Linked DNA regions of Homo sapiens: regions 2, 3 and 4 are each reported to be linked to region 1. Evidence: microRNA targets listed by miRTarBase, many of them from high-throughput screens and not tested one by one. Region 1 holds a microRNA gene; each other region holds the end of a gene's coding sequence. Distances are between the middles of the regions.
The links. The annotated mature microRNA hsa-miR-5008-3p reads CCUGUGCUCCCAGGGCCUCGC and lies in region 1 at 2,836-2,856, shown strand. An mRNA with a match to its seed (bases 2 to 7 or 8) in the 3' UTR can be bound and repressed. Matches are read on the target gene's strand: a 7mer-m8 pairs with bases 2 to 8, a 7mer-A1 pairs with bases 2 to 7 and ends in A, and an 8mer does both.

Region 1 (4,000 bases):
CTCATTTGCCAGGCCATGCAGCTCTCACCACTGTTTAATTCCAGAACATTTTCCTCACCCCAGAAACCTCATACGCATTAGGCAGTCGCTGCCCGTTCCCCTCCCCCAGTCCCTGGCAACCACTTGTCTGCGTTCTTTCTCCACGGGTCTGCCTGTCCTGGACGTTTCCTAGAAATGGAATCCTATGCCGTGTGGCCTCCGCGCCTGGCTTCTCTCACTCAGCATCACCGTTGTAGCACGCGTTAGTATTGCCTTCTTTCTTATGACTGAGTTAGACTCGACTGGAAGACTCTCCGAGAGATTTTTTGACCGTTCATCAGTTGACGGACATCTGGATCACTTCCACTGTTTGGCTATGATGGATAATGTTGCTGTGAGCATTGGTATGTGAGGTTTTGTGTGTGTGTGTGTGTTTTCAGTTCTTGGGGTACATAGAAGTGGAGGTACTGGGTCACATGCATGTGATGTTTTTGTTTTGTTTTATTGAGACAGAGTCTTGCTCTGTCACCCGGGCTAGAGTGCAGCGATGTGATGAAGGCTCATTGCTGCCTCCACCTCAGAGGCTCAACCGTCCTCCCACCTCAGCATCCCAAGTAGCTGGGACCACAGGCACAAGCCACTAATCCTGGCTAATTTTTTTAAATTTTATTTTTTGTAGAGATGGGGTTTTACCATGCTGTCCAGGCTGATTTTGAACTCCTGGGCTCAAGGGATCTCCCACGTCAGCCTCGCAAAGTGCTGGGGTTACAGGCGTGAGCCCTTGCTCCCCGCCTGCATTTAGGTTTTTGAGGCCCTGCCAAACCCTTCTGGATGCAGCATCTTACATTTCTGCCGGCAGTGCAGAAAGGCTCCTTTCTCCACTTCCTCGCTGACACTGGTTTTCTGTTTTATTTTCTACCGCAGCCATCCTAGTGGGTGTGGAATGGCACCTTGTGGGGCTCTGACTGCATTTGTCAGGTGGCCAGTGGCGCTGAGCATCTTTTCGTGGCCTCATGGGCCATGGGTCTTCTTTGGAGAATGTCCATGCAGCTCCTTTGCCTGTTTTTAGTGGGGCTGCTTGTCTTTCTCCTGTTGAGTTTATGAGAGCTCTTTATATATTTGGATTTCTCCTTGGACTGAGAAGAACCTTGTCTCTAGACCTGTGAGCCTGTGGGCGCTCTTACCCCTGCACAAGGAGCCAGCGACACCCTGGCAGCCCCACTGGGTGGGTGGGGGCAGCCAGGACATCCCCCGTTGCCTAGAGCCTGGTGTGGGGCAGTTCTGGGTGCTCAGGGGACTCTCAAGAGGAGGCTGCGGAGAGGCTGCTGTCATGGGCGTGGGGAGGGGATGTGTTTCTCACATTAGTGCCAACATCAGACCCCGCAGGGTCCAAGAGGGAGGCTGCTGGCTGTGGGCAGGACATACCCTGCCTGGTCCCATGGCTCTGCCTCTCTGTGCATCAGGCCTGGGGCACAGCTGGCTGCCTGGATGAGGGGCACCTGTGGGTCCCTGGCAGGGCCGGAGAAGGAGGGGTGGGCCTGAGGTGTGGAATCATGGGGCTGTGTGCTGGGCAAGAGAAGCCTGGGAAGGAGCTGGCAAGAAGGCGGCATCTGGGGTGACCCCATGGCTGGGGCCTGGGTCGGGTGCTCTGAGCACTGTGGGCCGGGGGGTTTGGGAGCAGCTGAGAGCTCAGGCTTAGGTTTGGGCAGGCACTGTCCTGGAGACCCACCCCCTCCAACAACTTAGGACACCCCAGGAAGCATGTGGGGCCTGGCATCAGGAAGAAAGGCCACACAGAGTGCTCTGGAGGGCCAGAAGGGCAGGGAGGAAAGGGGCCAGGGAGCTGCCTTGTTTCGAGAGATCGTGGAAGTGGCTCAGTGGGGCAGACCTCAGCAGAGGGCTGAGAGGAGGGGCCCTGGGGGCCAGGGGACTCCCTGGGGACTTCTTAGCATGGAGAGGAGAGGACAGGGCCAGTGGAAAGTCGGGGCATTTCTCCAGGACTCCTGGACTGGGACCCCGTGGCCAGTAGAGGGACCCAGGTGCTTGGCTTCCCTGACAGTGGGGCCGTAAGTGGGAGGGTCTGGAGTGTCAGCCTGATGGCCCCTGCAGGCGCTGGTGGCCTTCCTCCTTCCTGCTCTGCACCCAGGGGCCTTGGAACCCCCAGCCTCTCCCTGCCCCACCTGCTTGGGGGTCCTGGCTCCCTGGAGGGTGTGGAGGGTGTGTGGTAAGGACGGAGCAGCAGTGCCTGGCCTGCCACAGCTGAGGGAGCAGATGTCCTGTCCACAGCCGGCGGACGTCTGGTTGGGGAGACAGCTGGCCTCATCTTGCTCCCGCCCTGCTGCAGGCTGCAGAGGGCCCCAGTGCCTGCCCTGGCCTGGGACCTTCCGCCGGCTGCTGGGGTGGCCCGGGCTGGGGGTGCCCTGCTCTGGGGTTTGGCCATCAAAGAAGCGTGTGGGTGACTCTTCCCCTAGGAAAGAGCACACAGGCACGGATACCTCCTGGAGGCTCTGGACCCTGGGGCAGGGAGGAGGTGATGCCTGTGGGAGGGTGGGGGCTGCGGGAAAGCGACACCTGTTGACAGGCCTCGGTCGCGCCACCTGATCCCAGCTGCGGCACGGGCTCCCTTTGTGCATTGTGCTGGGCGGCGGGGTCAGGACCGGTGCAGTTGTCTGGGACCAGGGTGGCTCCCGCAGCAGTGTCTGTGGGACTGGGGACTGAGCCAGGCCCCCAGAACCCAGAAGGCCAGCCACGAGTGGGGGTTCCCCAGACCCCATGCCTTCTGGCTGGAAGTTGACCTCTGATGGGGCTGACCCCTAGGGTCAGGTGAGGCCCTTGGGGCACAGTGGTGCCATCTCCCCTGTGCTCCCAGGGCCTCGCCTGTCCCTTGAGGTCGGCCCCAGCTGCTGCTTCTTGCAGGAAGCCCAGTGACTGCCCAGATGCCTCCTTCTCTCCCTGCATGCTCAACTCTGGGGTTTGCCAGGAGGGTCCCCATGGAGTCTCCTCAGATGCATCCTTCTCTCCCTGGTTGCTCAACTCTGGGGTCAGCCAGGAGGGTTCCCGTGGGGTCTCTTCAGATGCATTCTATTCTCCCTGGTCGCTCAACTCTGGGATCAGCCAGGAGGGTCCCCTTGTGTTCTCCTCAGATGCATCCTTCTCTCCCTGGTCGCTCAATTCTGGGATTGGCCAGAAGGGTCCCTGTGGGGTCTTCTCCAAGCTGCATTCTGTGTGCCCTCCTATCCCAAGACTCCCTCAAGCCTGAGGCTCTCCCTGCCAGGTGGATCTGTGTCACTCATTCACCTGGCAGCCCAGCCCCGGGTCCTACAGGACTCTGACTCTGGCAGGGCTGTGTCTACACTTGTGGCCAGACGTAGTGCAGTGCAGACCTGGCTGCCAGGCTGCCGCACCTTCCCGTGTGTGGACGATAGGCCAGGTGTTGATGGCCCCACCAGAGCAGCCATGCAGAGTGCAGCCCCGGCGGGGACGTGACCCTGGTTTTCCTTCAGGGGTCATATTCAAGCACATCCGTGGTCCAGGCCGGGCAGGGTGGCAGGTGGCTGGGGATGGTCTTGCTGTGCCTGCTGACCTGGGTGGCACTGGGCCGCCCCGGCCCCGTGACCTGCAGCCTGGGCCCTCCCAGGAGCCTGTTGCCCTCCCGGCATGGTCCTGGCTGGCTGGGCGCCGCTGCCCGCCAGAGGAAGCCCAGCTGTCCAGCTGGCAGTTGCAGCACCTCAGGACCAGTGGCCGGATGGGACGATGGAAAAAGGCAAGCCGCAGGCTGCATTTGTTTTTTTTAGCGATACCTGAGGTCAGTGCAGCCAGGGGAAGTGGGCTGGAGGTCTGGCCCAGGAGGAGCTGCTGCCAGAGCCTCCCAGAGCTGGAGAACGTCAGGGCCGGCGTCCCTCCTGGCCAGATGGGGACAGAGGCTGCAGACCTGGAGTCACTGTGGGGTGGGGAGGGGAGCCAGGTGGACTTTGGGATGCTCCCTCTGTGACACCTACAGGAGAGTGAGCTCCAGAAGGGA
Region 2 (4,000 bases), not on the chromosome of region 1:
TTGGGAGTATTTTAGGAAGGTTTCCAACAAAAGTGGTTAAAATTAAGAGCTTTGTGGCCAGGCGCAGTGGCTCACACCTGTAATCCCAGCACTTTGGGAGGCCGAGGTGGGCAGATCACGAGGTCAGGAGATGGAGACCATCCTGGCTAACACGGTGAAACCCCATCTCCACTAAAAATACAAAAAAATTAGCCGGGTATGGTGGGTGGTGGGCACCTGTAGTCCCAGCTACTCGGGAGGCTGAGGCAGGAGAATGGTGTGAACCCGGGAGGCGGAGCTTGCAGTGAGCCGAGATCGCGCCACTGCACTCCAGCCTGGGCGACAGAGTGAGACTCCATCTCAAAAAAAAAAAAAAAAAAAAAAAGAGCTTTCCACTTAGAGGTGAACTTCATTTATTTGGGCCACCACTTCTTTATTCTTCAGTGATGTTAGATAAACCAGACATTGCTGCCTGTAAGTAAAACCCCATGCTGTCATTTCATTCATTTCATGGTTGCCTTTCTCTTTTTCAGATCCTGCTCACACTAAAATATGAACCACAAACACACAGAGAAACAACCTGTTCACCACTCCTGGGTGCATGATTGAGGGTGAAGCATCCACCAGCACTTCAAGGGGTCCATAGTATTTTTTTTTTTGCTGCCTCAAAGTCCCCAAAGCCTTCGAGCAGAAGTGGCAGTAGATGGTTGCCAATCAGCCAATGCAGACTTTCACTGGGACAACAAGAAAGCAGATCTTCTGGGTTTTGATGGAACTTGGCAGTGGGGACATTCAGCTGATGCATTATATACCCCGTCAGAGCACACTTGTATCTTTTACCTTCCCTTTGCCCCATGCCCCCAAACTGCTTAGGTCTTCTCTGTCCCTTTACTGCTGCTGCACAGAGATGATATAAAAGAGGCTCTTTGGCTATTTGCATTTTGCTTCCTCTTCTTTTCCAGATTACAGTATGAAGCTTTATTTTCTTTGTACAAGCTTAAAATTTCAACATCATCATCCGCCAAAGTTGTTCCTCCCTTTTCGGAGGATCTAGGGGGAAAGAGGAGCATTCATCACAAGTTTCCTAGAGAGAGGAGACAAATCGGTGTGCCATTGACAACATGAGCCAGGGTAAAGGCACCCTTTGGAATTACTGATTTCAAAGATTAATAAAGTAATTCTATTTTTATTTTCTTTTTTTTCCCTTTACTAATTTCCCAACAATCAATATTCACAAACAGGACTGAAGTAGAACCAGTTTTTTATTTTACTTTGTGGCTGTGCAATTTTTTAAACATTTTAGAAATGTGAGCTGTAAAGAGATGTTTTATTTTTACATTTCATTTCAGCAGATGGTGGGTCCAGGCTATTCCCAAAGGCAGCTCCTGCACCTGGGGAGCGGGCATGTGCAGATGTCTCCGTTATCAGCCCTCGACAGGCAGGCTCACTCACAGCGTGGGCCTCCAGTGGCTTGAGCCCTGTATCCAGTTGCATGTTGCATACCTCGCAGTTCACCTGAATGATGCAGCACAGCCCCAGTGCTCTCCCCTCAAGCCTCCGCCCTCTTGCTTCCTCCCCTTTCCTATGTCCTCTCTCTCTGGCTTCTGCTAGAGAAAAGGTTGAGAGTTGGACAGCAGAGTCCACTGAAGGATTAACTTAGCTGCCCTAGAGAGTTATCAGGGGAGAACCCAGGCTCTGGGGCTTCTTCAGCAGGGTACTATGGACTCAGTGTTGAAATCCAAAAAGAAAATTGACACCTGGCTGAGCGCAGTGGCTCACGCCTGTAATCCCAGCACTTTGGGAGGTCGAGGCGGGTGAATCACGAGGTCAGGAGTTCAAGACTAGCCTGGCAAAGATGGTGAAACCTCGTCTCTACTAAAAATACAAAGATTAGCTGGGCGCAGTGGCAGGCGCCTGTAATCTCAGCTACTCGGGAGGCTGAGGCAGGAGAATTGCTTGAACCTGGGAGGCAGAGGTTGCAGTGAGCCGAGATCATGCTACTGCACTCCAGCCTGGGCAACAGAGCAAGACTCCACCTGAAAAAAAAAAAAAAAAAAAAAAAAAAGAAAAAATTGACACCTAAAAGGGCAGAAAAGGGACTTTATTGCCTTCTTACTGAATGAAAACAAAGGTTTGGGCACATGGACACATTTTGTTTGCTTGTGAAGGATGAGGTCTATGGGTTTCAGAAGAGAAGTAAGAATGCATTCCAAATGTCCCCGGGACTGGAGAGTAGTTTCAGGACCACCTTAACTATTTGCTCAATTGGTTGTGAGTTGATTAGGGGACAAATTAGAATTCCTCCATAGTCCCCTGATGAGGTGTAGAATTGGGAAATAAGGGGTTTGGGAGGACTCACCACGTGAATCTTGTGACAAGGGAAAAAAGTATGAGCCCAGTAAAAGAAGTTTTAGACTATAATGCTTGAAATTGCCCTAGGTAACCAATCAGAATGAAGTCTTCCAGCTAATTTCTTACTGCACTTACCATATGCTGATCAGGTGCTAAGACACCAGATCTCTCCCTTCATGTGTCCAAGTGCTTTCAAGTCATTTTTATTGGGACTGGACTTCACTTGGCAATAAACCAGACAGATGCTATGAGCCCTCCTCCAACAGAGGTGATATTTCCAATGTCACTCTTTACCCTCCCCCAAAACAAGCGTCGATTTTTGAAGACAGTGATTCAAGTTTCTGTAGCACCTGTCAGTGATGTGTAGAATAGGGGGGCTGACTTCAGACCCCTGTCCGTATTTGTGTCTGCTGCCTAACCTACAAGTAGAGCTCTGAAGAAAAAGACCATTTGGAATTGCACCACGTTCTGTTTTCTTTGGAATAATCCAGGAAATGTATCTAGCTGCCTTGGTTCATTAGGATGAACCACAGGCCAATGTTTTAGCAATGTGCTGTGAAGTTGGATAAAAGGGGGTTTCATCTGGGGCCAAAAAAATTATTTCCCTTTTCTATATTGAAGCCTCAAGTAAGGACGAGTGATGTCGGGTGTAATGCACCACTTCTCAAAATGTGTTAATAGTTTTGAGGCAACCTGGACCCTACTGCAGTCCTAAAGGTACCTCTAGAGCTGCAGCCTGAAACTGTACATTTTAAATAAACCCTTGGGGGTTATCATGCCCAGTGAATTTGAGAATGGCCCTCAGGTGAATAGACTGATGCTGGGACAGCAGCAGCCCGTGGCTGATGTGCTGAGCTTACTGCATCCCCTCTCTGTGCCCCCGGGCTCCCTGGAGCAAGATGGAGTATAATCCCGCCAGCCAGGATTTTAGGACAGGGACATAGCCCTCCGAACGATGGTGGAAGTCAGTGGGTGCCACATGGGATGAAGACTGAGAGGGAAACCCTTAGAATTGGCTGGGCGTGGACAAAGCGGGGAAAAAAGTACTGACCAAACTCACTTCAGTCTTGGAGAACTCAAGGAACAAGGGACACACATACGTACACACACACACAGGCATGAACACATCAGACACATCCTTCAGCCTGCATACTTTAGCTTCAGATAGACTTTTCTTTTACTAGAGGCAAAGTGATCTCACTAGAAGAATGTGTTTCTCAGGAGCTGCTAGATGGCCTGTCGCTCTGTGCCCGCTCACTGTGGACGGCTGCCCCACGTGGATGTCCATACCACAGTGGGATCCACGGCCTCACTCAAAAGAGAGCTATGGTTCCCAGATCCCTGACAAGAGGGCCACAATCTGAAAAGGGGTTCCTGGTTAGCTCTTTTAGGCTTAGCCTGAGAACAGAATTAGCCTCATATTTTTAGGCCATTTGCCATACACATTTTCTCTCATTCTCAACTGATACGGGTGGGGGGAGATTTTCGAAAACAGTGATGTTGGTAATTTATAGTTAGTAAATAAACCATGTTTCCATATGCAAGGATTCACACCAGGGGATCCTGCCCACAGGTATCTGGAGGTCAAATTCGTATGTGCTTTCTGCCAATCTGAGCCACTGCCTCTGTGTCTCTGAGAATAATATACTCTGCAAGAAGGAAAGACGCA
Region 3 (4,000 bases), not on the chromosome of region 1:
CTGACTGATACCGCAGCACTGAAAACAAGGAAAATGGGTAGAACGCTCCTTCCCATCGAGGTCAATCGCACAGCCACAGAGGACCCACACCTTCGGCTCAGATGAAGCTGCCACAGTGACCCACTGGTTCCAGCCCACACACCCTCAATCCAAGAGATGGGTCTGGGGCCGGGCAGCTGTGGAGGGGGGTCTGGTCCGAGACCAAATCCTTGAATCACCCCCAGGGAGAAGGCGGCCAGGCCTTCTGGAGCAAGGCGTGGATGGTGCAAATGGTGTGGCTTCTGTGTCCCTGCAGGGCGGGGGCCAGGCCAGGGGCCATGACCTTCTTTTCTGGCCAAACGGCCACTCCTGAGTGTGTCTCTCCCACGGGTAGACAGCGTCAGCCACAGAGCACTCAGGATTCAGTTGGGTCCAAACTACAGCCCAAGGAATTGTCTCATTCTGCTCATGTTTTCTATGTTTCTTCCAAAACTCTATGCATATTATTTTGGTGATATTATTGTAAGTGGCAAAAGTAAACATTAAAAACACTAAGCACAGAAACTTGAAAAGAAAAGGTCAAAATTCAATACCTGGGATGGTGCACAGTGGCAGGCAGGACCACATCATCACGTGTCAGACAAAAGCGTCCCACAGGGAAGCCAGTCATCTTTCCCCAAAAAGCAGCGAGACCTCAGGAAGCCGGGCAGCCAAAAGCATCAACAACCCCAGCGCTTTCCAGGGGTAGCCACAGGTGTGAACAGCTCAAAGGTGGAGCGCAATATCAAATTCATTTCTGAAAAATTGCCAGGCGCTGTTTCAGCACAAACTCCCTGCACTTACCTATCCCTCTTCCCAAAAATGGTAAAAGAGAGAAAAACATTTTCCACAATGTATCCTCCACGATCAATAAACATCTGTGTTGGCCGGGTGCGGTGGCTCATGCCTGTCATCCCAGCACTTTGGGAGGTCGAGGCGGGTGGATCACTTCAGGTCAGGAGTTCGAGACCAGCCTGGCCACACATGGTGAAACCCCATTTCTACTAAAAATACAAAAATTAGCTGGGCGTGGTGGTGGACGCCTATAATCCCAGCTGCTCGGGAGGCTAAGGCAAGAGAATCACTTGAACCCAGGAAGCAGAGGTTGCAGTGAGCCAAGATGGTGCCATTGCATTCCAGCCTGGGTGACAGAGCAAAACTCCGTTTCAAAAACACAAAACAAAAAACAAAACACACACACACACACACACACAAAACCTGTGCTAACAAAAAGTTAAGTCATTAAATGAAAATTCATCTCCCAGCTGAGCGCAGTGGCTGACACCTGTAATCCCAGCACTCTGGGAAGCCGACGCAGGCGGATCATTTGACCCCAGGAGTTTGAGACCAGTCTGGCCAATATGGTGAAACCCCGTCTCCAACAAAAATACAAACTTAGCTGGGTGGCCAGGCGCGGTGGCTCACGCCTGTAATCCCAGCACTCTGGGAAGCCGAGGCGGGCAAATCGTGAGGTCAGGAGATCGAGACCATCCTGGTTAACATGGTGAAACCCTGTCTCTACTAAAAATATAAAAAATTAGCCAGGCGTGGTGGCGGGCGCCTGTAGTCCCAGCTACTCGGGGGGGCTGAGGCAGGAGAATGGCGTGAACCCGGGAGGCGGAGCTTGCAGTGAGCCGAGATCACGCCACTGCTCTCCAGCCTGGGTGACAGAGCAAGACTCCGTCTCAAAAAAAAAAATTAACATACAAAACCCACCCATCTCCAGTTTCACAGCCGTGGCGAAGGGTGTGAAGCACTGTAGCCTGCCCTCTCTGGCGCTTTCCCTTCTAAGCCGCAGGAAGGCACCGCTTGGAGGGAGCCCCTTCAGGCCCAGACACTGGCAGGGACGAGCAGCAGCAGTGGCCGACCGCCCGCCTGCACCTGCCTGGCACCTGCGCCCGGAGGATCCACTCCCACCCACACCCTCGGAAAAGGACAGGTGGCCCAGAGGCATCCGTGTGTTCAAGAACCGCAGAACATGAATGTGGACACCATCCCAACCAGGACTGTTCAGGGTGTTCTTGTTCTCTTGTTCTCACTCACTGACTACCAGCTTCTCGACGGGAGGGCCCCGTCTGAGACACAGAGCTTCACACGTTCCTTCTGCTTTATTTCCTCTCCCTAGTGAAACATTAAACACAGGAGGAAAAGATACAGATGTAGCCATCAGAAGGAAGTGAGGCTGTCATTCCAAATGGCCCCCCACCATGAAGAAACCCAGGCTTCTTAAATCAGGAACCTCACGTCTCAGTTTTCCCTCAGGTTTCTTTCTGTGGTGTGAGGACAGAAACAGGCGTCCCTGCATTCCTCAGCAATCCTCTCCTTCCTCTAAAGGCACGGGAGAGGATTTCCGAGCGCCTGCGATGCTGTGGGGAACCGCAGGCTGGGCACCGTCACCAACGCGTCACAACAGAGCAAATCTGCATAGCCTTCCCCAACTACCACCGAAAGGATGGCTCCGGCTCAGCTTGGTGAACGCTCATTAAACAAAAAGCACACTCGAGTTTCCTAGCTTCATTCCAGAACTGCTATTGTGGCACAACAAATTCACAACAAATTCACATCGGAGTCCCCTCGACCGGGAGCTGCGGGCCTGGGAATGCACAGCACAGGCAGAAGCATTCGTGGTTCGTCAGCTCCTGGCAGACGGGACTCACTTCACGGACACACAGACCCACGATCTTCATGCTATTAGGGTAATTTCATCTTCACAGTAAAAAATCACCAATTCCCAGAGAAACGGAGCATCAGCCCAGCTGTCGCACAGGGTCTCGCGGGTGCTGGTCACGGGACCTGCGGCCACTCCAAGCTAATGAAGAGCCGTTTACTCCGGAGGTGAGTCCCCGAGGGAGGACTGAAGTCCAAGCTAAAAAGGCGGCGCCAGCGAAGCGGAGGCCGCTTCCTCCAGGGAAGAGCCCCCAGCCCTCCCGGGCCCATCCGAGGCGCCCCACGCGGGAGCGCACGGTGGCCGGAGGCGGCGCGGAGCCGAGTGTGAGGAGGGCAGCCGCCGCCACGGCAGTGGCCCCACGCGCGCCTCGGTGGCAGGTGCTCCAGCGGGCGGGGCACGCGGAGCCCGGGCTGTACCGGACAGTCCTGGAAAACCACAGGAAAGCTACGCGAGGGTGGCGGCCGCCCTCCGTGGACCAGGTTACCATGTCCCCGCCCGCACGCCCGGCCGGGCAGCCCGAGCTCACGCGCGCCCGCCCACGTCCGCCGGGGTCCCTGCTGATGCTCGGGGGGAGTCCTGTAAAAGCCACACTGAGGTCGCGGCGGCGAGTCCCTGCAAGGTCGCCCTTCTGTGCGAACAGGCTTTGGTGGTTCTTGTTCTAGGAAACATCCAGCGCTTCAACTGGCCACGGAGTTACTAAGTATCAACCGAACAAGGTAGTTTTAAAAGGAAGGGAAATATTGCGACACGAATGAAGGGACAGATTAACTTGCTCCTCGGATCCGGGCACACAGCTCCTCCTACTTCTTCTTCCTCTTTTCCTGGACACACCGTGGACAGAACCTGTGACAAGAAAGGCGCAGTGAGGCCCTGGGCGCCATTTCCGCCAGCGCGCAGGGTGCCCAGGGCCCGCCTCCCCATGTCTCCCAGGGCTGCTGGACGCCGGCAGGAGGGCACCAGGAGAGGCACACGCAGTGGGGCCGCGGCCCTCCCGCAGGGAAAATGCGCCGATGCACGTGCGGCTCTATGCAGGACGCCGGTTCTGAAGCTGACAGATACACCATCAATGAGCAAAACCGATTTGACACCCAGGCGTTCCTCCTTAACAGGTGGGTCCTTCTTCCCCGGCCGATGGCAGGGTCGCTGGTGCCCTCTGTCTGCAGTCTGTGGGGGCTGCAGGTACCAAGCACGCGTTGAGAGCATGGCAGCCCCTCAGGCCCACGGAAACCCAGCCAGGCACCCTGCACTGGCCCTGGAAGCTGCCGTCTCACAAGTGCTCCCTGGTGACTCTGAGCAAGTTCTGGAGCTGCACGC
Region 4 (4,000 bases), 180 Mb from region 1:
CAGGACCCTTTGTTACTAGGTTTTGCCCCATGGGAGTGTGCTCTTTTATCTGCATCATTGAGGCCCTATCTCTTTCTTTTCCCCTTCTCTTCCTTTCTGTCTATTCTTCTTTAAGCATCCCTCTGTGAATCTCTCAAAGCAATTTTGTGTCAGCTTCCTAATGTATTTACAGATATTCTCATGTAAGGTGCAGGTCTTGGGTCACACAGTTCTAAGATAAATCTACTCTCACTGCCATGGTCATATTTCAAAATGACCATGAACCCAAAGCATGGGACTTGTAACAGTCTGAGCTGTCCAATGACAGAGGAGGTAGTGAGCGATCTGTTATAGGAGGTGTGCAAATAGCACCCTTTTAGAATGCTGGGATTGGGCCTCCTGTGGTGAGCCAGAGGAAGAGGCAGCAGAATGGAGGGCCTTCCAGATTCTAGAGGAGTGACTAAAGGCAGGGATATTGGGGGCTGGAAGGGAAGCAAGGCAGCTGGCCAAAGACACACTTGATTCAACAAGCTATTATATGTCAAGCACTTAGAAGTGTACCTGACACATAATGAACATTAGCTGTTATGATGACTGTGAATGATTCATAGACTATATAATGAAGGAGCTGAGATCAATCAGTCCTTCACTCCCATCACTGATAACAAAATAGATGAAGGGTTGGGGTCTAGAGGGGGAATGGGCTTGCAATGGAACTTCAGGAGCTGGGCTGGGGCTACAACCTATGCCTTTGCCTCCCAGGAGAGCCTCTGCACAAAGCCAGGCTGGCTCCTTTGCAGGAAGAGGGAAGAGCTCTAGATGGGCCTTTGTTGACTCTTAAGAACCAAGCTGCTTTTTAATTCCTGCCCAGGCAGCTTGTGAGTTGGGGCAGTGGAATGACAGCAAGACCTGAGCCAATAGATGCAGATGTCTACTGGGGAGTAAGCTCAGGAGTCAGGCCCATGTCCTGCCACCCCCACCGTAGCTCCAGCCAGCAACAAGTATCTTCCTCTTCAGGATGGCCTCCTGTCCTGTAATTAGTGTTGGGATTGTATTTCCACTCTGTCCTTTTATCTACTACCTCAAAAAAAAACCACCCAGAGTAAGGGGCTGGAGTGAGAATAGCCAATGCCAGGCCAGGCGTGGTGGCTCATGCCTGTAATCCCAGCACTTTGGGAGGCCGAGGCGGGTAGATCACGAGGTCAGGAGATCGAGACCATCCTGGCTAACGCGGTGAAACCCCGTTTCTACTAAAAATACAAAAAAATTAGCTGGGCGTGGTGGTGGGTGCCTGTAGTCCCAGCTACTCCGGAGGCTGAGGCAGGAGAATGGCATGAACCCAGGAGGCGGAGCTTGCAGTGAGCCAAGATCGCGCCACTGCACTCCAACCTGGGTGACAGAGCAAGACTCCATCTCAAAAAAAAAAAAAAAAAGAAAAAGAAAAAAAAGAATAGCCAATGCCAGGCAACCTGAGATGAAACAAGGAACGATTCCTATCAGACTGAGTTCCCGGAAGGCAAAGAAAAGCCAGGCTTCTCCACCCCAAGCGTCCTAGCCTAGCTCGGTCTAGAATTTCCAGAGCCCCAGGAGAATCTTTGTGTCCCCACCCTAGAGAGCTGGGCCAGACATGACCACACCAGCCAGCCCTCCACATGGTCCAGTATCTCAGGACAAAAAGCCTTCCCAGCCCCATTCTGGCTCAGTTCCTTCCATGGTCTGCCAAGAGCCATGTGGCACCCAGATCACCGCTTCCCACCAGTGGCTGCTTTAGTTTGCCTTTTATTTTACCAAAAATAACAACAATAAAGTCTTCCCTCTGTTTCATAAAAATAAATTTTCCAACCCTCCCCCTATCCCAGAAATCAGCCCTTGCCACAGCCTAGAATCCATCATGCAAGTCACAGCACTCTGGGAAAAGCTCCTACTACCCTCGCTCCACAGCCTCTGGCAAAGCTGCCAGGCCACTCTGGAGGCGGCAGAGGCAGAAGTCCCAGGCCCAGCTGGCTGGGCCCAAGAGCTCCATCTGTTTCCCCAAAGTACAGGCAGCTTCTAGGCCATTGAGTGGGGCATGATATTGGATGCTTGGCTCAGGAAACAACCCCAGCCAACCCAAGGGGCAGTGGGACATGTTGGCCTCAGGTTAGAAATTATTGCTCAAAGCAGAAACAGTTGTGTCCTAGAGAGGGTCTGTTAAACCCTCTTTCCATGTGTATCTCTATGTAGCAATTGATGGGCCCTGCGGTCAGGATCCCTGGTTTCTCCAGCTCCATGAATGCCTCCCTGTGAGGCCCTGGACAGTTTCTCCCTCTTCTTCTCCTGGCTTCAGTTTCCCCGTATGTACATTGAGACAGTAAGACTGGATGATTCTCAGGTTCCCTCTGGCTTTCCATTCTGGCATCCCAGAGTGGAGGCTCTGGGAGGGCAGAACCCTGTTCCTGCCTCAGTTTCCCCACCTGTGGGTCTGCGTATAGGGCTGGGTATGGAGGTACTGAGTAATGGAGTGCTGCGTGAACATCCCAGTCTCCCTGTGGATAGCTGTGCTGTGAGATCCAACTGGCTGGAATGTGTCAGGGATGGCTGGGAAGGAGGCAGGTACTTTTAGGATGGAGGATCTCCATGCCTGGAAGAGTCCATTCACCAACTACATCCTCAATGTGCTGGGATGGGAGACAAGACTCCAAAGTTCCCAATTCAAGTTCCACAAGCTCCTTGGACGGGGAGATTATTTTGTGCTGGGCTTCAGATCCGAGGAGCCAGGTCTGTAGATTCTGGGAGCTAGAGTGGAGTATATGATTCCCAGATGAAGGGCCAGGGGACCTTTGTGTACTTGAGGGATCATCTCCAACCCCCAGGAGGACACGTATAATACAGGCCTTCTTGGAGGCAGAGGGATGAGTAAAATGTCAGCTCATGGGCATCTCTGGGTAAGAGAATCAGAGCCTGTGTCTGCAGTGGGTCGGTTTAGGAACTCAAGGCAAGGCTCCTCTTCCTACGTTCCCCCAGCTCTCCAGGACTCATGCTGATGGAAGAGTGTAGCCTGGAAGGTTTGAATGTAGAGCAACATCTACAACCACATTTTTGTGCACTTACACACATGGTCAGATACACTGAGTGGGGACGCTGAGCTGTCATCACTCCTACAGTGGTCATGGTCTGATGGTCCCATGGTCTGATGGTCCCAATCTATTTATCCATCCATCCAACATTTATGGAAGGCCTACTATGTGCCAAGGAGGGGTAAGGCAGCTAGCTCTCACAGACACACCCCACAGTGAAAATCACACACACACACACACACCCCGGCATCTGTGCTCACTCACAGGCAGACTGCTCACTTTCTTGCACCTTTCTTGCCATCACCTCGGCCACACCCACATTCCTCCAATAGGCTTGGGAACCAGCATGGAAGGGTCAAGTGTCATAGAAGAAACCCCCTAGCCTACCCTACTCCCAGACTTCATGCCAGAGGTTTAACTCCACTTCCCTTCTGTTTGCCTGCCTAGATGCTCTCCCCTTCTCCATCCACAAGCGGTCAGGGCGACAGGTAGGCAGACTCCTGAGAACCAGAAGTCCAGAGGCTTTGGGTGTGTGGAGTGATTCCAGTGCCTTCAGATTCCTTCAGGCTCCTGGGGGTCCCCTCTGCCAGCCACCCTATGTTCAGATCGTCCATCTGATGGCCAAAAAAGTCCAGACCTGGGCTCAGTGGCAGATCCGCTCTGTCATCTCCCTCTGTAGAGACACAAGGTAGGGAGGGGTCAATTAGAGCTCAGCCTACTAGGCAATCCCTTCCCAAACCATAGGGCCTAGCTGCTCTTCTGTCTGAGCCTGGCCTTCCCCCAGCAACCCCAACTCTTAGGCTGCAGATCTGGGTTTGTAAACCAACACTTGAATGAATTCTCTATTGAAGTACAGAATTCACTGTTAAATGAATTGCCTTCCCCTAATTCATCTACTTGGGCGTTGGAGTTACTTAAAGCAGGCAGCTTTTGGACGTGAAAACTCAGAGGCTAGCCTTGGTAGG

Region 2: the mRNA of TTLL5 is a reported target of hsa-miR-5008-3p. Seed matches in the 3' UTR shown: 7mer-A1 at 879-885.
Region 3: miRTarBase lists ING5 as a target of hsa-miR-5008-3p. Seed matches in the 3' UTR shown: 7mer-A1 at 3,314-3,320 and 7mer-m8 at 1,237-1,243.
Region 4: the mRNA of MOB3C is a reported target of hsa-miR-5008-3p. Seed matches in the 3' UTR shown: 8mer at 3,285-3,292 and 7mer-m8 at 2,515-2,521.

Annotation. Positions count from the first base shown.
Region 1 is chr1:227,940,466-227,944,465 of GRCh38, reverse strand. MIR5008 (microRNA 5008) reads left to right here and starts at 2,783; the gene lies at 2,783-2,876. All of the region lies in intron 1 of WNT9A (Wnt family member 9A), which reads left to right. RefSeq lists an enhancer at 1,434-2,336.
Region 2 is chr14:75,953,912-75,957,911 of GRCh38, forward strand. TTLL5 (tubulin tyrosine ligase like 5) reads left to right here. Exons shown (of 32, transcript NM_015072.5): 32 at 513-1,168. The coding sequence ends at 535. Among named protein-coding and RNA genes, the nearest start is that of TGFB3, 26 kb to the right of the region's middle.
Region 3 is chr2:241,724,518-241,728,517 of GRCh38, reverse strand. ING5 (inhibitor of growth family member 5) reads right to left here. Exons shown (of 8, transcript NM_032329.6): 8 at 1-3,529. The coding sequence ends at 3,487. Among named protein-coding and RNA genes, the nearest start is that of D2HGDH, 8.1 kb to the left of the region's middle.
Region 4 is chr1:46,605,977-46,609,976 of GRCh38, forward strand. MOB3C (MOB kinase activator 3C) reads right to left here. Exons shown (of 4, transcript NM_201403.3): 4 at 1,743-3,708. The coding sequence ends at 3,679. Among named protein-coding and RNA genes, the nearest start is that of MKNK1, 3.7 kb to the left of the region's middle.